Homo sapiens: one gene and its partners. The gene in region 1 interacts genetically with each later gene. Each region holds a gene or a part of one and is shown on either strand. Other genes may lie near its edges. The genes, in order: CYP4F12, MMP25, CSNK1G2 and CAMK2G.

The links.
Region 2: changes in CYP4F12 (region 1) and MMP25 together harm fitness more than expected from each alone (negative genetic interaction), as found in Homo sapiens cells (one large-scale study listed by BioGRID).
Region 3: changes in CYP4F12 (region 1) and CSNK1G2 together harm fitness more than expected from each alone (negative genetic interaction), as found in Homo sapiens cells (one large-scale study listed by BioGRID).
Region 4: changes in CYP4F12 (region 1) and CAMK2G together harm fitness more than expected from each alone (negative genetic interaction), as found in Homo sapiens cells (one large-scale study listed by BioGRID).

Annotation. Positions count from the first base shown.
Region 1 is NC_000019.10:15,671,156-15,676,937, reverse strand, and holds the start of CYP4F12 (cytochrome P450 4F12), read right to left. Parts: upstream 3,852-5,782; 5' UTR 3,803-3,851; intron 3,410-3,802; 5' UTR 3,409-3,409; coding exon 3,211-3,408; intron 1-3,210. UniProt on the Homo sapiens protein: A cytochrome P450 monooxygenase involved in the metabolism of endogenous polyunsaturated fatty acids (PUFAs).
Region 2 is NC_000016.10:3,055,158-3,059,241, forward strand, and holds part of MMP25 (matrix metalloproteinase-25 preproprotein), read left to right. Parts: exon of another isoform or gene 1-17; intron 18-98; coding exon of another isoform or gene 99-181; intron 182-578; exon of another isoform or gene 579-672; coding exon of another isoform or gene 673-792; intron 793-1,875; coding exon 1,876-2,052; exon of another isoform or gene 2,053-2,152; coding exon 2,153-2,237; exon of another isoform or gene 2,238-2,373; coding exon 2,374-2,456; exon of another isoform or gene 2,457-3,023; coding exon 3,024-3,176; exon of another isoform or gene 3,177-3,254; coding exon 3,255-3,512; exon of another isoform or gene 3,513-3,545; intron 3,546-3,669; coding exon 3,670-3,941; 3' UTR 3,942-4,084. UniProt on the Homo sapiens protein: May activate progelatinase A.
Region 3 is NC_000019.10:1,942,933-1,948,183, reverse strand, and holds part of CSNK1G2 (casein kinase I), read right to left. Parts: intron 1-5,251. UniProt on the Homo sapiens protein: Serine/threonine-protein kinase. Casein kinases are operationally defined by their preferential utilization of acidic proteins such as caseins as substrates. It can phosphorylate a large number of proteins. Participates in Wnt signaling.
Region 4 is NC_000010.11:73,842,828-73,848,078, reverse strand, and holds part of CAMK2G (calcium/calmodulin-dependent protein kinase type II subunit gamma), read left to right. Parts: coding exon 1-91; intron 92-287; exon of another isoform or gene 288-731; coding exon 732-854; intron 855-5,251.

The DNA of each region.
Region 1 (5,782 bases):
AGTGGGGAGAGGAATGAGTAAGTGAGGAGAGGAATGAGTGAGTGAGGAGAGGAATGAGTGAGTGGGTAAAGGAATGGGAGGAAGGGAATGAGTGAGGAGAGGAATGAGTGAGTGGGTAGAGGAATGAGTGAGTGGGTAAAGGAATGAATGAGTGAGGAGAGAAATGAGTGAGTGAGGAGGGGAATGAGTGAGTGAGGAGAGGAATGAGTGAGTGAGGAATGAGTTGAGTGAGGAGAGGAATGACTAAGTGAGCAGAGGAATGAGTGAGTGAGGAGAGGAATGAGTGAATGGATAGAGGAATGAGTAAGTGAGGAGAGGAATGAGTGAGTTGGTATTGGAATTAGTGAGGAGAGGAATGAGTGTGGGTAGAGGAATGAGTGAGTGAGGATATGAATGAGTGAGTGGGCAGAGGAATGAGTGGGTGAGGAGAGGAATGAATGAGTGAGAAAAGGAATGAGTGAGTGAGGACAGGAATGACTGAATGAGGAGAGGAATGAGTGAGTGAGGAGAGGAATGAGTGAATGGGCACAGGAATGAGTGAGTGAGGAGAGGAATGAGTGAGTGAGGAGAGGAATGAGTGAGTTGGTATTAGAATGAGTGAGTGAGGAGAGGAATGAGTGAATGGGCACAGGAATGAGTAAGTGAGGAGAGGAATGAGTGAGCCGTCTCCCTTGGTTCTCTGGGTTCCCAGACCCCAGCCACCATCAATACACAGCTCCCTGAACCCCTACTGGAAGTCCCACCCCTCTGGAAGTCCACCCACCCTGAGACGCCAGACCCCATCCAATCCATTGAGGGCATGAACAGGACAAAAGGCAGAGGAAAGGAAGAACTTGCTCTCTCTTCTGCTGCTGGGATATCCGTCTTCTCCTGCCCTCAGAACTCCAGGGACTCAGGCCTTTCTGGACTCAGGCTGAATTTACACCACCAGTGTCCCTGGTTTCTGGCTTGCAGATGATATATCATGGGACTTCTTGGCCTCCATCATCACATTATCCAATTCCCATAATAAATTCTTATCTCTCTATCTCTTTCTGTCTCCATACATACATGCATTAGAGATAAGAAGAAACACCCTATCTGTTTCTAAGGAGATTCCGTTTCTAGGGAGAACCCTGACTAATGCACCTCCCTAGATGAAGCCACAGCAAGTCCCCCCACAGCCACCGGATGTGGTGCAGCCTCTGCAGTGAGCAGCGTGTCTGGATTCTCAGCAGCTGCAGTGGGTTTCTGCTGACTTCTGCTCCTTCTCTCTTGGAGCTGTCCCCAAGATCCAAGGGTAAATACCAAAGCAGAGAGAGAAGACAAGCTGTCTGCTCAAGAGGATGTGTTTTCTCATCCTGGATTGATTTCAATCTGGGGATTGCTATATGGGAAGGTCCCCATGGAAGGAGGTTTGTGGGCAGCAGTGTGGCCTCAGGACATATCCCTAGAGCTGGTTGCCATATCCTTTTGTGTCCTGGTTGGTCCACATGGGCACTGGTTCCTCCCACAGACAAAGGGCCTGCGTCCTGAGGGCCCTCCATTCTCAGCAGCCTCCAGGGGAGCAGAGGTGACTCTAATGTCCATCAGGATGGCAGCTCCCACCTAGGAGAGCCTCACTTATGCCAGGTTCTGTGCTAGTGCCTCCTGTGCACCTGTGGACACACCGATCAATCCTGCCTTTTGTAAGTGAGCAGACAGAGGCCACATCCCCCAAAGGGGAGGGCCGGTCCCAGTCGGAGGGAAAGGTTTGGGAGTACCAAGGACGGCTTCTGAAAGGGGAAGGGAGTGGCCAAATTATATCCAGGTTGGGCTACAGGGCTCACTGGGACATCTTACTGGGGAAGAGCACATTGTCCCTGGAAGGAGAGGGTGTGGGAGACTGCCTGCACTTCTCTTCTGGTCCAGCTGTGTCCCTCCGTGGGGAAGGAAGTCAGAGATAATTCCTGCGGGAAAGCAGCAGCCCAGAGATGGGCAGATACAAGCAAATGGGCCATGCAGGGAGCAGCCTGTCTATCGGGGCTCAGAAGGCTTCAAGTCCAGCAGTGGAGAAGGTGGGAATGCCAGGAGAGCCCTGCTCTGTGCACCCCACAACCATACAGGAGCCTCTGGGAGGGGCACTACGGTAGGGAAGACAGGCAGGAAAAGGATCCAAGCAGGCTGAGGTGGGAGGACAGGGAGGTGAGAAAGGTTTGGCATGGAACTGCAGAGGAATGAATGAATGAGGAAAGGAATGAGTCGGTGGGTAGAGGAATCAGTGAATGAGGAGAGGAATGAGTGAGTGAGGAGAGGAATGAGTGAGTGGGGAGAGCAAAAAGTGAGTGGATAGAGGAATAAGTGAATGGGTAGAGGAATGAGTGAGTGGGCAGAGGAATGAGTGAGTGATGAGGGGAAGGAGTGAATGAGGAGAGGAATGAGTGAGCAGAGGAATGAGTGAGTGAGCAGACGAATAAGAGTGAGGAGAGGAATGAGTGAGTGAGGAGAGGAATGAGTGAATGAGAGGAATGCGCGAATGAGAGGAATGCGCGAGTGAGGAGAGGAATGAGTGAGTGAGGAGAGGAATGAGTGAGTGGGTAGAGGAATGAGTGAGTGAGGAGAGGAATGAGTGAGTGGGTAGAGGAATGAGTGAGTGAGGAGAGGAATGAGTGAGGAGGGGAATGAGTGAGTGAGGAGAGGAATGAGTGAGTGAGGAGGGCAATGTGTGAGTGGGTAGAGGAGTGAGTGAGTGGGTAGAGGATTGAGTGAGTGGGTAGAGGAGTGAGTGAGTGGGTAGAGGAATGAGTGAGTGAGGAGAGGAATGAGTGAGTGAGGAGAGGAATGAGTGAGTGAGGAGAGGAGTGAGTGAGTGAGGAAAGGAGTGAGTGAGTGGGTAGAGGAATGAGTGAGTGAGGAGAGGAATGAGTGAGTGAGGAGAGGAGTGAGTGAGTGGGTAGAGGAGTGAGTGAGTGGGTAGAGGAGTGAGTGGGTAGAGGAATGAGTGAGTGGGTAGAGGAATGAGTGAGTGGGTAGAGGAGTGAGTGAGTGGGTAGAGGAGTGAGTGAGTGGGTAGAGGAGTGAGTGGGTAGAGGAATGAGTGAGTTAGCAGAGGAATGAGTGAGCCATCTCTCTTGCTTCTCTGGGGTCGCAGACCCCAGCCACCATCAATACCTAGCTCACTGAGCCCCATTCCTGCTCCTCTGGAAGTCCATCCACCCTGAGACCCCAGACACATTTTGCTGTCACACTCACCAGGCCCAGGTGACCCCAAAACCAGTTCCGTTTTGGGGGCTGTGGGAAACACTGGAGCCGGCGGCAGTTGTTATAGAAGGCATAGGTCCAAGCCAGGATGCGGGCGAGTAGCCAGGAGCCCACAACCAGCAGCAGGAGTAGCCATGGGGACGTTGCCACCGGTCTGAGGCCCAGCCAGGGCAGGCTCAGCAGCGACATCCTGCAGGGCAGAGGGGATGCAGGGTGAGGACCTGAGGCCCAGGGAAGAGCTCCGGGGACAGTGTATAGGGGCGAAGTCAGGAACTGCTGGGGGCAGGGCAGGGAGGGCTCAGGGGTGAGTAAACGAGGGCTGAGATCTGAAGTCCAGAAAGTCCCAACCAAAACCAACAACTAAGTGGCCTCCAGTAACCTGGTAACCACACAGAAAGGGAAAGAGATGGGCCGATTAGAGTCCAGAAGGGCCCCACCTGAATCCTTGGGAGTTTGCTAGGAGTCCAGTTACCAGGAAACCCCCAGTTTCCCATGCCAGCATCTTGGAGCCACCCCAGCCTTAGGCAGTCCCCTCTTCATCCCAGGCCAGGACCTTCCAGCCCTGCCACCCCCAGCCTGGTACCTTCTGTCGGGAGCAGCTTGTCCCACACAACCTCTTCTCCTCTTCTGCTGGGAGGTCTTTGGCCCTGGCCCCTGATCTAGGGAAGGCCGTAGGAGGCGGGGCTGGGCTGGGCTGGGCTGAGGCAGCCAATCCCCACAGCCTGGGTGTGTCTTCCGTGCCTGGGCAGCCAGCCAAAACCTGGGGTTGGGCCCACTGGGTGCAGCTCAGGGTGCCCCAGCACGAGCACTGAATTCTCAGGTCTCAGTACCTTCTTGGGAGTTTGCAGGGGAAGTTGGAGGGTGGTTAGAGGGGACTCTGAACCCCAAGTTTACCTCCACCCTGCCCTTCCAAGACAAGGGTGTTCAGATAAAAGCATATACTTATCATGACAGTTGGCAGCCAGCTGAGCTGGGCCAGGCCAACCCTTGTCCCAGATCATCTGGGCTCCTCTCCAAACATGGGCGGGGAGGATGTCAGGCACTACATCTTGGTGCAGACTTAGGAGATTCAGAGACAGAAGCCTCTCATCTCTGGCTTCACAGCCTGGCAAGAGTTCAAGTCCTGCCTCCTGGCAGCCCAGGGCCTGAGTTGAGGCCTGACTGCTTGAAGCAGGAAGAAAGAATCCAGCCCCAACCCCGCTGAGGATTACCTTCGTCAGATTCTGGGGATAAAGAGCCCAGCTGGAGGAGCAAACCTAGAAGCTGGGCTCAGCTTAGGAGGACAGAGCGGAGGCACAGGGGATGAGGCTGAGAGGGGCCTTGAGCTGACGGGGTCCAGGCAGGGGAGGGCAGAGCAAGGGGATCCCGAGTGGAGTCCTTGTTCTGCCCTGTCCTTTCTCTGACTGTGGGCAGTGTGGCCATCCTGGGCTCAGGCTTCCCATCTGGGAAATGGGATGTCAGATGAGGCCTTAGAGGGCGACGGAGGAAGGCTCCTAAGAAAAGGGAGCTCCAAAAAGAGGGACTGAAGGGAAGGGGATGACAACTAGCACTTGAGCTGCTGTGTGCCTGTCTCTACTCCATGCGAAAGACTGTACGGAAAGCACTACTGTGTGCACCTACTGTGTGCCAGTTTCACTATATAAAGTGCACTTACTGTGTATCAGATACTGTACATAAATTCTGTCTACTATGTGCCAGGTATGCCACATAAAGCTCACCTACTGTGTGCAGCATGCTGTACATAATGTAAGCTTACTTTATGCAGAGTACTTCATATAAAGCGTGCCTACTCTGTGCCATGTGCTGTATATAAAGCATACCTACTGTGTGTCAGGTGCTCCACATTGAGCATGTGTACTACGTACCTGGTGACCCACAGAAAGCGCACCTACTCTGCATCAAGTAATCTACATAAATCTTGTCTACTGTGTGCTGGCTATTCTACATATAGTGCACCTACTGTGTGCCAGGAGCTCCACATAAATACTGTCTACTGTATGCTGGGAGCCCTTCACAAATCCTGTATCTTGAGTCCCTGGCCCTTTATATAAACCATGCTTGCTGTGTGCCAGGTGCTCTAAATAAAGCACACCTACTGTGTGCCAGATGTTCCACATAAAATGCTTCTCCCGTGTGTTAGGTCCCCTACATAAAGTAAAACTACTCGGTGCAACATACTTGACATAAAGCACACATACTGTGTGCCAGGTACACTATATAAAGTGTGCCTTATTGTGTGCCAGATATGCTACATAAAGAGCACCTACTGTGTGCCAGGTATGCCGCATAAAGTGTACCTACTATGTGCTAGGTACGCCACATAAAGTACACCTACTGTGTGCCAGGTGCTCTACATAAGGTGCACCTACTATGTGCCAGGTGCTCTATATAACGTGCACCTGCTTGTATCAGATGCTCACCTGCATCACAGTGCCCAAAGCTGTCCCACCACCCTCCCAACAGCTCCCTAGGCCAGAACCCTGGGCATTGTTGAAGAGACCTGAGTGATGGCATCCAGAGGAGAGAAGGTGTCCATTTAACACAAAAGCAAACTGAGGCTCAG
Region 2 (4,084 bases), on another chromosome or scaffold:
AGCAAGGATGACAGGAGGTGCCGGGGCCCCTGTGGACTGCCCTCTGGGAATCTTGTGGGGCTGGGTCTGCACAGCTGTGGTTGTGTAACTTCCCCCAGATGCATGGCGTGACAAGGGTGCAGGAAGGGGTGCAGGGCCCGGAAGCCCAGTATGGCCAAGGAGAGACAAGGCAGGGAAGAAGGTGAGAGATGAAAGATATCGCCCTGATTGAAACACCAAACTACCCCCAGTTTCTCAGAAAAAGGACTCAGAGCAACAAGAGAACCTACAGTCGACAGGGAAATTCGTCAGTGCGGATGTGATTTGAGCAAGACCATTGAAGCCCCTGCTGAAAGGCAGGCTGGCAGAGCCAGGGTACCTGGCCATCTACCTTGAAGTCTCTGTGCCTCAGTTTCCTCCTCTGTAAAATGGGCATAGGAGACAGGTTTGGTGAGAAGTGAACGAAAACGTGTTTGCTACCCCTCTTAGGTCTCACGTTTCATGCTTAGACGCTCAGCGAGTGGCTTTAGGGACCGAGAGAAATTTGCTTTTCAGTTCACCAGGTCGTTACCTATGAACCTGCCCTGAACAGTGCTGACCTTAGTTAGAGATGGCCATGAAACTCATCCGCATGGGGTAACTGGGGCCTCCCTGTGGTGCTGCGGGGCTGTGTCTCTGTCTTGGTCTCTTCAGGCCTCTCAGCAGCTGGAGCAGGAGCTGGCAGGCGGCTCACCGGTTGATGAGGAGCTGGGCTTCAGCCGGGGCTGGCGTGTGAATCCTCTGGGTCCTGGCAGTCCTGAGCGCCTGAGCTGAATACAGAGGGAAGAGGCTGGGAGCAAGGCCGGGTGCTGGGGCCGGCAGGCTGTGTTCTGAGAGTGCCTGCTAGAGGAGCTCTGTGTTCCCAAGGAGATGGAGGAAGACCTGGGGTGGGGGTGGTACAGGGTAGGGAGAGGAGGGGCAGAGGCTGTGAACAGGGAGATGGGGGAGGGGGGATGGAGGACTCAAGGGATGTAAGGGATATGGCTTGAGGAGGGATGGGGGCAGGAATGAGGGAAGGTCTTGGGTCAAGGACATGGACCTACATCCCCAGCAGATGGGGGTGGCAAGGGGGAGACGGGTGGGGGTCGCTGACTATAGACTGTAGCTGGGAGGAGGGGATGCTCCCAGGGCTGGGGCTGCCTGAAGAGAATGGCACGCACCTTGTAGGCTCCTGCCCTCACCCCACCGCCCTCTTAAGTTTCTTTTATTTTCTTTTTCTTTTTTTTTCTTTTTACTTTTTTTGAGACGGGGCCTTATTCTGTCCTCCAGGCTGGAGTGCAATGACATGGTCATGCGTCACTGCAGCCTCCACCTCCCGGGCTCCAGCGATTCTCCTGCCTCCCTGCCTCAGCCTGGGACCTGAGTAGCTGGGACCACAGGCATGCGCCACCACTCCTGGCCAATTTTTAAAATTTTTTTGTAGAGATGGGGATCTCCTTATGTTGTCCAGGCCAGTCTTGAACTCTTGGGCTCAAGCGATCCTCCCACCTGGGACTCCAAAAGTGCTGGGTTTACAGGCATGAGCCACCACACCCAGCTCCTCCCCCTCAAACTTCTGTGCACAAAGTGCTCCCTTCCCAGAGGAGGGGCCCCATCGGTGTGTAAGGTGGCCTATTCCTCTGTGTGTTCTCTGGATCTTTTCAGCCCTGTGGTCCAGTGTCCATCACAGCCATGCTGACTGAGTGACTGGAGACAGGGATGATGGAGAGTTCAGGAAGGGCTGGGCAGAGGAGGCTGGGGCCACCTCTGGAGGGTGTCCTGCTGTTCCTGTTGGCCCCAGCTGCACTCGCAGGGCCTTCCTGTGGCCCCTTTCCCCAAGCAGGGGCGGCCGCAGCTCTCACCCACTTTCTCCTGCAGACGGCGAGGGGACCGACCTGTTTGCCGTGGCTGTCCATGAGTTTGGCCACGCCCTGGGCCTGGGCCACTCCTCAGCCCCCAACTCCATTATGAGGCCCTTCTACCAGGGTCCGGTGGGCGACCCTGACAAGTACCGCCTGTCTCAGGATGACCGCGATGGCCTGCAGCAACTCTATGGTAGGGGGAGAGGGACCTGCCGCGAAACCATCATTGCCCCATCCAGTGTCCTCTGCAGCAGGGCCAGGGGACGCACACCTGCCTGACTCTTTCCTCACAGGGAAGGCGCCCCAAACCCCATATGACAAGCCCACAAGGAAACCCCTGGCTCCTCCGCCCCAGCCCCCGGCCTCGCCCACACACAGGTGAGTCCCCCACCAACTCGGAGACCTTGGGTGACCAGCTGCCCAGCCTCAGTGTCCTCTGAGATGGGGATGGTGGGGGTCCCTGCCTTGGAGAAAACAAACCCCCCTCTCTACTCACCTCTCCTTTCCTCCCCAGCCCATCCTTCCCCATCCCTGATCGATGTGAGGGCAATTTTGACGCCATCGCCAACATCCGAGGGGAAACTTTCTTCTTCAAAGGTGAGTCATTTCACTTGGCCTCATATATGTTGGTTTCCTGCCCACTTCCAGTGACCCACTGGGGCTGTGGGCTTACCCTGGAAGCGGAACTTTTTTCTTCTTTGAGACAGGGTCTTGCTTTGTTGCCTGGGCCGCAGTGCAGTGGTGTGATCATGGCTCACTGCAGCCTCAAAATACTGGGCTCAAGCGATCCTCCCACCTCAGCCTCCCTGGTAGCTGGGACCACAGGCACATGCCACCACGCCTTGCTAGTAATTTATTTTATTATTTTGTAGAGATGGAGTCTCACTATATTGCCCAGGCTGGGCTCAATCTCCTGGCTCAGGTGATTCTCCGGTGTCAGCCTCCCAATGTGCTGGCATTACAGGTCTGAGCCACCAGGCAAGGCCCTGGCACTTTTAGCGCTAAAAAGGGAAAAGTCTCAGGCGGGCCAGGATGGGCTGGTCACCCTAGATCCATTGCGCCCTTGATTTCCAGATGGGACCCCTCCCCACCCAGCCACACACCCTGGGGGAGGAGACCTCCTGCTGTCTCATGCCTTCCTGCGAACCCCTTTGTCCCCTGCAGGCCCCTGGTTCTGGCGCCTCCAGCCCTCCGGACAGCTGGTGTCCCCGCGACCCGCACGGCTGCACCGCTTCTGGGAGGGGCTGCCCGCCCAGGTGAGGGTGGTGCAGGCCGCCTATGCTCGGCACCGAGACGGCCGAATCCTCCTCTTTAGCGGTGAGTGGGGCCGGCGGCGGGGCGCGCTGGGGCCGGCGCGGGGAGCCCACCCCTGACCTCCCGGCCTCCACCCTGCAGGGCCCCAGTTCTGGGTGTTCCAGGACCGGCAGCTGGAGGGCGGGGCGCGGCCGCTCACGGAGCTGGGGCTGCCCCCGGGAGAGGAGGTGGACGCCGTGTTCTCGTGGCCACAGAACGGGAAGACCTACCTGGTCCGCGGCCGGCAGTACTGGCGCTACGACGAGGCGGCGGCGCGCCCGGACCCCGGCTACCCTCGCGACCTGAGCCTCTGGGAAGGCGCGCCCCCCTCCCCTGACGATGTCACCGTCAGCAACGCAGGTGGGGAGCGCGGTGACCTGCGGGTTACTGGGCCTGGGGGTGGGGAGAGGGATGTGGGGAATGGGGACATGGAGGCCACCCTGCGGGGATGGGGGTCCTTGGGCATCAGGGAGCGGCGGGGCGGGGAGGGACCGGGACTCAAGCTCTGCTCCTCCAGGTGACACCTACTTCTTCAAGGGCGCCCACTACTGGCGCTTCCCCAAGAACAGCATCAAGACCGAGCCGGACGCCCCCCAGCCCATGGGGCCCAACTGGCTGGACTGCCCCGCCCCGAGCTCTGGTCCCCGCGCCCCCAGGCCCCCCAAAGCGACCCCCGTGTCCGAAACCTGCGATTGTCAGTGCGAGCTCAACCAGGCCGCAGGACGTTGGCCTGCTCCCATCCCGCTGCTCCTCTTGCCCCTGCTGGTGGGGGGTGTAGCCTCCCGCTGATGGGGGGAGCCATCCAGACCGAACAGCGCCCTCCACGGCCGAGTCCCCCGCCGCTGGACCTGGTCGGGGGTTGTGAGGCGCTGCGGAGGCCCCTTGTCTGTTCCCACGGACGGGGGCTCGGGCGCGGACTAAGCAGGGGGGAT
Region 3 (5,251 bases), about 14 Mb from region 1:
AGAGGGGGAGGGACAGGGCCCGGGGCAGCGGCCTTCCAGAATGGCTCCCTCCGGTGCAGGATCAAGTCTGAGCCCAGGGCGGGGCCGCCCCCCGAAGCCACACCTCCTGCTCACAGGGCCAGGGTTTAACCAGCTCATCCCGGGTCCCGGCCCACGAAGCTTTCAGAGGAACCGGGGCTGTGCGCCCACAGGAAGGAGAGGCCAGTGCCCGGGCACGAGGACGAGCTGACTCATGGGGGCCCCAGGACGTCACCACACCCATTGCCCAGGGCCGCGGGCGAGGTCCAAGGGGCAGCGGAGGTCCCCGACAACTCATGGGGCAGCCACGGTCCACCCAGGGCTCAGGCAGCGAGCCCCACACAGCGCCCCTCTCCACGGCGTACAGGCCTGACCAGCGTGATGGCACAGCACGCACACACCTGTGCAGACGCCAGCGCAAACGCACACCACCCCTGCGGTCGCAAGCCCTGTCCCAGCCCACCTGCAGGCTCCAGGGCTCTGGCTGGCCTGCACGTGGCCAGGGCCCAGCTGGATCCCCCTCGGCGCACCCACCCTCAGAGGAACTCAAAGGCACACCCAGCAAGTCAGAGGCAGACACGGGCCAGTCCGTGTCCTCACGCTGGTCCCGTGCGCTGCCCTCAGGCTCCCGTCCTGGGAACTGTCCCCAGGCAGAGCCTGGGCATCAGCGCCAGCTGCCCTGCCCCAGGACCACTGGAGCAGAAGCCCGAGGGGCACAACTGCCGCGGACAGGATGAGCCCTCGCACGCCTGCCATCTTTCCTGGGGACAGAGGTCAGATGGGAAGGGGCAGAGGTCACCGCAGATTACATGAGCATCACCTGGGAAACAAGGTCCCTAAGGAGGGCGGGTCCCACCTGCAACAGGGCCTGAAGCACCACGGCCAAGGCGAGAGGACTGGCCATCAGGCCTCACAGGCAGGGACTCTGTCCACGAATCCAGACCAGGACTTGGGGTGCCTCACTCTGGAGGGTGGAAGTTTCCAGATAATTGAGGGATTACCTTTAAGCACAACTTTTTTCAAGCCTCCAAAGGCAATTACGCATCAACGAAACACCGCTGGTGACAATAAAAAAACCTCTAAGATTTTCTCTGCCTTTTAAATAGCGATAGGGCCGGGCACGGTGGCTCACGCCTGTAATCCCAGCTATGAGGGAGGCTGAAGCAGGTGGATCACCTGAGGTCAGGAGTTCAAGACCAGCTTGGCCAACATGGACAACAGAGCGAGACTCTGTCTCTAAATAAATAAATGAATAGGCCGGGCACAGTGGCTCATGCCTGTAATCCCAGCACTTTGAGAGGCCGAGGCGGGCAGATCACAAGGTCAGGAGATGGAGACCATCCTGGCTAACACAGTGAAACCCCGTCTGTACTAAAAATACAAAAATTAGCCAGGCGTGATGGCATGTACCTGTAGTCCCAGCTGCTGGAGAGGCTGAGGCAGGAGAATGGCGTGAACCCGGGAGGCGGAGCTTGCAGTGAGCCAAGATTGCGCCACTGCACTCTAGCCTGGGCAACAGAGCGAGACTCCATCTCAAAGAAAATAATAATAATAATAATAAATAAATAAATAAATAGCCGGGCGCGGTGGCTCACGCCTGTAATCCCAGCACTTTGGGAGGCCGAGGCGGGCAGATCACGAGGTCAGGAGATCGAGACCATCCTGGCTAACACGGTGAAACCCCGTCTCTACTAAAAGTACAAAAAACTAGCCAGGCGTGGTGGCGGTCGCCTGTAGTCCCAGCTACTCGGGAAGCTGAGGCAGGAGAATGGCGTGAACCCAAGAGGCGGAGCTTGCAGTGAGCTGAGATCGGGCCACTGCACTCCAGCCTGGGCAACAGTGCAAGACTCCATCTTAAAAAAAATAAATAAATAAAAAATAAATAAATAAATAAATAAACGAATAAATAGTGATGGGCCAGCCCTGGCCCGTGACCCCCGAGCCTCTTGCAGTCTTTCTTCCCGCTGCCCTCACCTGCGCCCCCTCCTCTGCGCGGCCTGAGACACAGACGTGAGGCAGCTAGCTCCCCCTGCAGGTATGGAATGGGAGTGACCTCCCCGGGATAGGCCACGGGATGCACTTCCCACCTCTCCCGGGAACATACGCGTGGCCTCCGCTCCTAGATGGAATCTGCCGTAACAAGAGTCATACCCCACGGGTCAGGCCGGCCAGACCAGAGTCTCTTGCCCCACTCCACTGGGCTGCCTGCCCCACTTGGCACCCACAGCTTCGGTCCTCACCCCATGGCCTCTCCAGGGAGGGACCCACTGCTCTACCCCAGCGTGCCCCAGAAGTTCAGCAGATGCGCATCAAGGGAGAACCAGCTTTTTTTTTTTTTTTTTTTGAGACGGAGTCTCGCTCTGTTGCCCAGGCTGGAGTGCAGTGGCGCGATCCTGGCTCACTAAAACCTCCACCTCCCGGGTTCAAGTGATTCTCCTGCCTCAGCCTCTCGAGTAGCTGGGATTATGGGCGCACGCCACCACGCCCGGCTAATTTTTGTATTTTTAGTGGAGATGGGGTTTTGCCATGTTGGCCAGACTAGTCTTGAACTCCTGACCTCAGGTGATCCGCCCACCTCGGCCTCCCAAAGTGCTGGGATGACAGGTGGGAGCCCCCGCGCCCGGCCAGAGCTGGCTGTTTTCAACATGATGTCACGCGAAACTGTCTCGGGCCTCACGGTGCAGGGAGGCCGCTGGGCCACCCAGGAGCACGCCTGAGGGTGACAGGAGGGATCCCTGGGCAGGGCTGGCAGGGGGCTGCCCCGATTCCCTGTGCAGGGGACACGTTGGGGGCTCTGAGCAAGGGGGAGATGATCCCCACACCTCAGACGCGTGCCCCGAACAGTCAGCCGCACCGGGGGCCAGGGCCGCCTGAGTGCTGCCGGGGGAGCCTGGGGCCAGCCCGGGGGTCTGAGAAGCGGCTCCCCTGTGGGCCCAGGACACAGCTCACGCTGCACCTGCAGAGGGGCCCTGGCAACCTTGCGGGCGCACAGGCTGGTGCAGGGCCCCAAGCAGCGGTGGTGGCCAGAGACTCTGGGCAGGGCGAGAAGGGGCCGCGGAGCCTGGAGGACTCAGAACCCAGCAGGGCTTCAGGACAGTGCCTGGGGGACAGCATGGGCAATGCTCCTGGGCACAGCTAGCTCACGCTGGCCACCCGGGGCATGTCCTGCTTTGTCCCATGCCCTTGCTGGTGACAAGTTGATGTGGGTGGTGAGCGGGGCAGAAAAAGGGCAGCAAGGGTGGGATGCTAGAGGTTCCTGCCCCACTACAGGAGGACCCGGCAAAGGGAGGAGGCTCACTGGGCCCCGCCCGCCAGACGGGTGCTTGCCAGGAGCCAGGCAGGCCCCACCCCTCACTCAATCCCTGCCCGCTGCAGGGCTGCCCGCAGTGCATTGAATACACCGTTCTGGTGGTCCCAGACCCTCACTTTGAGCCCTCGCTGAGGTAGCACAAAGGGGTACCCCCCCCCACCCAGCCAGGCCAGTCAAGCTCCCGGACAGACCCACCCAGCAGACGGCTGCACCCACGTGCCAGTCACAGGGCGGCACAGCCCTCTGGACAGAGCCAGCAGAGAGGATGGGGAAGGCGGTGAGGCCCGTCCCCTGGCCGCAGGGCCACCACCCCTCGCTGTCACTGCTCCCACTGGCACGGCGGGTGACCAGAGAAGCACAGGTGTGGGAGTCAGCCCTCGGGAAACACCACCTTCTCCTCTACCCAAGCAGGCCAGGTAGGCCTCGACTTCCTCATCTGTAAAATGGGCGCTCCACCCACTTCCCAGGAAGCCCCACAGCACGGGCCCCACGAGAACTCCAGAATGAGGAAGAAGCAGACGCGGAGCCTCCCGACCTAGGGAGCCTCCAGACTGCAGGCCTCACTCAGACGGCCTTGCACAGAGGCCGCCAACCAACAGGTTCTCTCGTGTGGCTGCCGGCGGAGCATTTGCAGATCTGCAGATCCGCGGGATGGGGGAGGCGGACCCGGCACGCCTGACACCAGAGCTCGACCCAACACGCGCACGGCCACCGAGCCCTAGCTGGACACAGGACTTGAGGCTGACCTGAGGACGAAGCCCACAGCTGCCCGCCACCACCGCAACCCTAACCAGGACTCGGGCCAGGCCTCCTTCACATGGGCCCTGTGTCCCCTCTGGGTTCAGAGAAAGTCAGCCAGCCCCACATGCTGGCCTGCCCACTGCCACCCGAGGCCCGCAGCCCCTGCCAGGCTGTGCCCGGCACTCGGCCCCAACAGCACCCACAGCGCTGCCTCCATCCACCACCCGCCCTCCGCCAGGCCTCGGTCAAGGCCTTGACGGACCATGAGCCCCTGGGGGCCTGGGGCAGCTCGGTGGGGGGTGCAGAAAGGAGGCAACATCAAACGCTCAACAGGATCCCCCTCTCCAGATGCCCCAGGGCAAGCAACTCCGGCTGTCCCTAAGCTCAGCTTCCGTCCGTCCCAGTGGCTCTGCGGACGCATCTGCTGGGGCGCTAGAGTCTGCCACTCGGGCGCGCGGTAACCCCCACCAGTTCCAAAAGACACAGTGCCCCCCCTCCCAACCGTGCCTGGCACACCAACAGGACTACCCCAATCCCCAAATTAATGGCTGGCATACTGGCTTCCCCTAAGCTTGGGATGAGCAACAGGAACTTTCAATTAAAAAAACCCTCGCCTACTTCCTTTGTAGCCCAGAGTAATTACTGTATTATTAAAAAGGAGGAGAAGAAAAGAAGAAACCCAAATCGGCAATTCCACAAAATCTGTCTGCACAAAGTGCTGCACCATCGCGGGCCATCCTGCAAACGGCCTGGCTCCCAGACCTGCCCAGAGCCCAGGCAATGAGGCGCTGCTCCCTCATCCTCTTCAGAGGAACTAGACAGGTTCAAATCAGACAGGAAGCCCCTAGACACACAAGGAAGTCCGAAGGCACAGCAGGCACAGTAAATCCAGACACTACAGACCACTTGGGGTTTCGCCTCCCACCGGGGTGAAGGGAACAGAGCCAGCTCCTCCAACATCTCACCCCATTTGCCCGCTGCACGGTCCTGCAGGACACATGGTTGGCCTCTCACCCCCAGACCTGGCCCTCCCATTGGGACCCCGTCCAGACCCGGCTCCCCTGCATGCAGGTCTCCCGTTCCCTCTCGTCTGTGCAGGAGCGGCTCTCAGAGCTCACTGTGGGGGGCTGAGCAAAACACTCTCGGCCCTAGAGACGTCAAGGCAGGCGTGCGCGTACCTGC
Region 4 (5,251 bases), on another chromosome or scaffold:
CATCCTGTATATCCTCCTGGTGGGCTATCCTCCCTTCTGGGATGAGGATCAGCACAAGCTGTATCAGCAGATCAAGGCTGGAGCCTATGATGTAAGGACCAGAGAGCCGGGCAGCCAGGCCAGGAAGGGCAGATGTCCTTGCTCCTCGGGCTCTGTCCAAGGGAGCAGGCTTGTTTAGTGTGTCACGTGATACGGGGGTGTCAGGGGACTTTGAGGACCCAGGAATGGGCATCCAGGGCCCAATTCTTGCCACTCTATGTCCCAGGGAGCAACTTTCTTTTGCACAGCCTTCTTCATAACTAAAATTGAGGAGTCCACTGAAGTCCTTTGATCTTTACTTGCAAAGAATGGAGCGGCCTCATTGGTGTGCTGTGTAACACAGGGACAAAAGGCCTGGAGACTCCCTCCACTGCAGTGGCACCTTGGACACATTGCTGAGCCTCTGTTCCCTCCTAAGTATAGAGCTGGGCTTAAACCAGAGAATGTTGGAGTCCCCTTCCCGCTCTAATCTGATGTTCTGGCATTCTAAACATGACTGTTCTGTCTGTCTTTCCAAGTCTTTAAGTTGACACAGGTTCTGGAATAGCCGCAGGGCTTCTCCAACTCTGCCAGTCACAGCTTTAGGTACCACAGAGTATCCCAATTACAGGAGTTGAGTTGAAGACAGAACCAGTGTTGCAGGGTATGAAGCTCACCAATACCACATTCTTCTCCCTATTCCTGCTCCTTAGTTCCCATCACCAGAATGGGACACGGTAACTCCTGAAGCCAAGAACTTGATCAACCAGATGCTGACCATAAACCCAGCAAAGCGCATCACGGCTGACCAGGCTCTCAAGCACCCGTGGGTCTGTGTAAGTGTCTTTGCTAGTGGCCAAGGAGCTCAGGGGTGTCAGCCTTCTGTGTGCCCTCGGCACCACCCCCTCCTTCTTACCAGCAGAGATTCATTCTGGGCCCCAAGCAATAACTGAGCAGGCGGGCAGAGGACTGTTGAGGGCCAGGGTCAATAAATGTCACCAGGGAGACTCGGGAGGCTGATGGGGCTGGTGGGCCACTGCTCCTCTCTCCCCCACTCATGGCTGTCAGGCTGGGATTGGTTCTGTTCTTGGATGAGGGCTCAGGTTGACCCTTGTGGACTCCAGGTAGCCGGTGATAGAAAGCAGCTGGCAAAACCCAAAGTGAATTCCCAAGCTGGGGTTCATACTCAGATCTCAACTCCACTGGAGTGGTGACCAAGATCCAACAAATCAACAGAAGGGGTTTCTGAGTCATTAAAAGCATAAAAGCTGAGGCATAAAGCTTCTGCGCTAAAGTCCTAGGAGAGTCCTCTAGGCTATCAGTGTGGGTTGACGTACTCTGTTTTTATACACAATTCTTTCAAGCTGAAATATCAACTTTCAGACAAAGAAGAGGATTTGGTAGAGTTAGGCATCTTGACAACCACGAGGCATTATTTATCTGTCCATTCTGTGTTTATTAAATACCTCTTTGGTGCTGGTTACCGTCTGGGTGCTGGAGATACAAAGATGAATGAGGCATGGTCCCTGCCCCAAAAGATCATCTAGGGAGACAGGCACTCAAACAGGCAGTCATGTTACAATGTGACAAGTAGGTACAAGAATCTAATGAGAGTACAGGAGCTCCTACTGTTCCTGGTGGGTGGTGGGGTTACTGAAGGCTGCACGGAGGAGGTGACACCCCTGTGCTTGTTCTTGGCAAATAACGAGGTCCTCAGAACGTTAACCTGCAGACAGAGTTTAGCACAGTGAGAGGTTATGGGAAACTATGGTGAGTTGAAGGAATGTTGAGTTGTTTGGTTGTCGATGAGGCTGCAAATATCAGAATGCAAGAGAATGGGGCAAAAGATTCCCTGACATACAAGTTTCTGCCTCAGGAGTTTGGATTTTATTCTGAAAACATAGGGAATCATTTAAGGGTTTTAAAGAAGAATGAAATTTGCATTTAAGAACACTTTGGAAGTTGTGAGGAAATGAATTGCCAGGCATGGTGGCATGTGCCTGTAGTCTCAGCTGCTGGGGATGCTGAGGCAGGAGGATCATAAGCCCAGGAGTTTGAGGCTGCAGCGAGCTATGATTGCACCTGTGAATAGTCATTGTACTCCAGCCTGGGAAAGATGGTCAGACCCCACCTCTTTAAAAAAAAAAAAAAAAAAAGAAGGGAATTGAAAATTTTTAAAAGAAAAGGGCTGGAGACAGAGAGCTCAGGAAGCTTTTTTAATAGTTGGAATAGTCTAAGCAAGACCAGGTGAGGTCTCAGCAGAGGGTAAGGATGGGGGAATGTGCAGTGTGTTGAAATTCAAGAGATATTTGAGAGAACCTAAAGGATTTAATTCTCTCCAGTTGGATTTGGGGGGAGCAAAGAAGAGAGAGGCCAGGTTTCAAGTTGAGCGGAGAGTTGTACCCTCACTGACCCAGAAGAAAACCAGAGGAGGAGCTTGTTTGTGAGACAAGACGATGGTTTTCTCTTTTTTTTTTTTTTTTTGAGATGGAGTCTCGCTCTGTCGCCCAGGCTGGAGTGCAGTGGCGCGGTCTCACTGCAAGCTCTGCCTCCCGGGTTCATGCCATTCTCCTGCCTCAGCCTCCCGAGTAGCTGGGACTACAGGTGCCCGCCACCACGCCCGGCTAATTTTTTGTATTTTTAGTAGAGATGGGGTTTCACCGTGTTAGTCAGGATGGTTTCGATCTCCTGATCTCATGATCCACCCGCCTCGGCTTCCCAAAGTGCTGAGATTACAGGCATGAGCCACTGCGCCCGGCCAAGATGATGGTTTTCATTTTGTGCCTGCTGAGTCTGGCAACCTCCAGCCAGACACATTCAGTGGGTGGTTAGAAATATGGTCCTAGAGATTAGAAAAGAAGCTAAAAATTGGAAATCCACATTGTAGTCATTTCTGTGTAGTTGGTAGTGAGGCTGTAGAAATAGCCTCTTCCTATGCTGTAGATGGGCCTGTTCCTATGCTGGTTGAGTTCTTACGGTGAGCTTCTATTGGCTGTAGTAGAGAAGAGACGGCCACTACACACCAGCATTTAATGATAGGGAGAGTTAGGGGGCCCAGCAAAGAGCACTGAGAGTGAGACCTTCCAGAAGACCCAGAAGCTAAGAAACAGGGGGTCTCAGTAAGGGAGCGTCAGGAATCAGATGCAGAAGAGTCCCTGATTAAGTTGGGGAAGAATCCCCTGGCTCTGACCATTAGATGCCATTGTTTCATCATTTCACTGAGACAGTGGAGAGAAAGATGAAACCCTGTTTTCAGTGAGACGAAGAGGGAGTGAGGGTGAGGAGGGGCATGGGGAGCTAGGCATTGAGGTGGGAAATAAATGGTGATACTTAGATTAAGATGGGCCAGGGGAGCTTTTAATGTAAGGCTCACACCTGTAATCCCAGCACTTTGGGAGACCAAGGCAGGCGATCACTTGAGGCCACGAGTTCAAGACCAGCCTGGCCAACATAGTGAAACTCCATCTCTACTAAAAATACAAAAAATTAGCTGGGTATGTTGGTACACACCTATAATCCCAGCTACTTGGGAGGCTGAGGCATGAGAATCACTAGAACCCAGGAGGTGGAGGTTGCAGTGAGCCAAGATAATGACACTGCATTCCAGCCTGGGTGACAGAGGGAGACTCTGCCTCTAAAGAAGAAAAAATTTCTTTTTAAAGATTATATTGGTCAGGAGCGGTGGCTCACACCTGTAGTCCCAGCACTTTGGGAGACCAGGGTAGGTAGATCACTTGAGCCCGGAAGTTTGAGACCAGCCTGGGCAACATGGCAAAACCCCATCTCTACAAAAAAAAAAACTTTAAAAATTAGCTGGTTGTGGTAACGTGCCTTAGCTACTTGGGAGGCTGAGATGAGAGGATCACCTGAGCCTAGAGAGGTGGAGGTTGCAGTAAGCCATTATTGTGCTACTGCACTCCAGCCTGGGCAACAGAGTGAGATGCTGTTTCAAAAAAAAAAAAAAATTTTTTTGTTTAAGGAGAGGCTTAACTATAATCTATAGAGAAGAATCTAGTCCAGAGGAAAGAGTTGAAGATCCTTGCTAATTGAGGAAGCAAAGGTTTGGACAGCAGAAAAAGAGAGGGGGCTCCTGAGCCAAGGGCAGGGGGTCCATCCCGGGGATGACCATGATCCCCCTGAGACTTCTATTAGTGTGGAGGCAGGTGAAGATCGGCTTGTGAGTGGAAGTCTGAGCTGAAAGGGGTTCTTGCTGATGACCTCTCATTTTGCTTTTGGAGAAATTTACACCGAGGAGGAGGTAAAATGAGAGACTTGGGGAAGGTAGAGAAGGTGGGGAGAGTTGCCTCCGGACCTGGAAAGAGTGGGCCAAGGGTGAGGGAAAGGATGCGAGGAGGCCCCGTAGTGTTGGTGGGCACCTGGCTGCAGGTGCCAGGATTTGTTTTTCTGACAGGCTGGTGAAGACAGCAACAGCAAGGGGAGAGGGCAAGCAACCTGAAACAGGCACCCAAGAATGGGGGAAATATTCTGTTCTGGGGTCATTTTTGCAGGCCCTACCCTCTGCAGTCCCGTGTGTCTCGAGCCCCTGAGGACATCACTATATTCTGAAATTACATAATGATGCTGGTATTGACAGCTGAGTCATTGAGGAAGTGTAGACTGTGTCCCATGGACTCTGTTTAAGGAGGCCAGGAAGTTAGCAGTAAATACATTGAAGACAAATTTCCATCCAAAAAAGGCGGGGCACAGTGGCTCACACCTGTTATCCCAGGACTCTGGGAGGCCGAAGTGAGCAGATCACTTGAGGTCAGGAGTTCGAGACCACCAGCCTGGCCAACATGGCCAACCCTGTCTCTACTAAAAATACAAAAATTAGCTGGGTGTGGTGGGATGTGCCTGTAGTCCCAGCTACTCGGGAGGCCAAGACAGGAGAACCTGAGAGGCGGAGGCTACGGTGAGCCGAGATTGCACCACTGCACTCCAGCCTGACTGACAAAGCGAGACTCCATTGCAAAAAAAAAAAAAAATTACATCCAGAATGATGAAAAGAATTGATGCTTCAAGGTGACGATCCTTAGCTTCTGGGATCATGGCTTCATTCAGGACCTTGCTGGGGGTGTGTGGAGAGGGGCTCTTGGAAGGAAGGAATGTCCTCTGTAGAGAGCAGGAACCCTGCCGTTCTCTCGCTGCTGAGCATCTGGAACGCAGTAGGTGCTCAGTAAACAGCTGCCTAAGGAGTGACTGAATGAGGATCACAGCCCCCAGGGTACTCTCC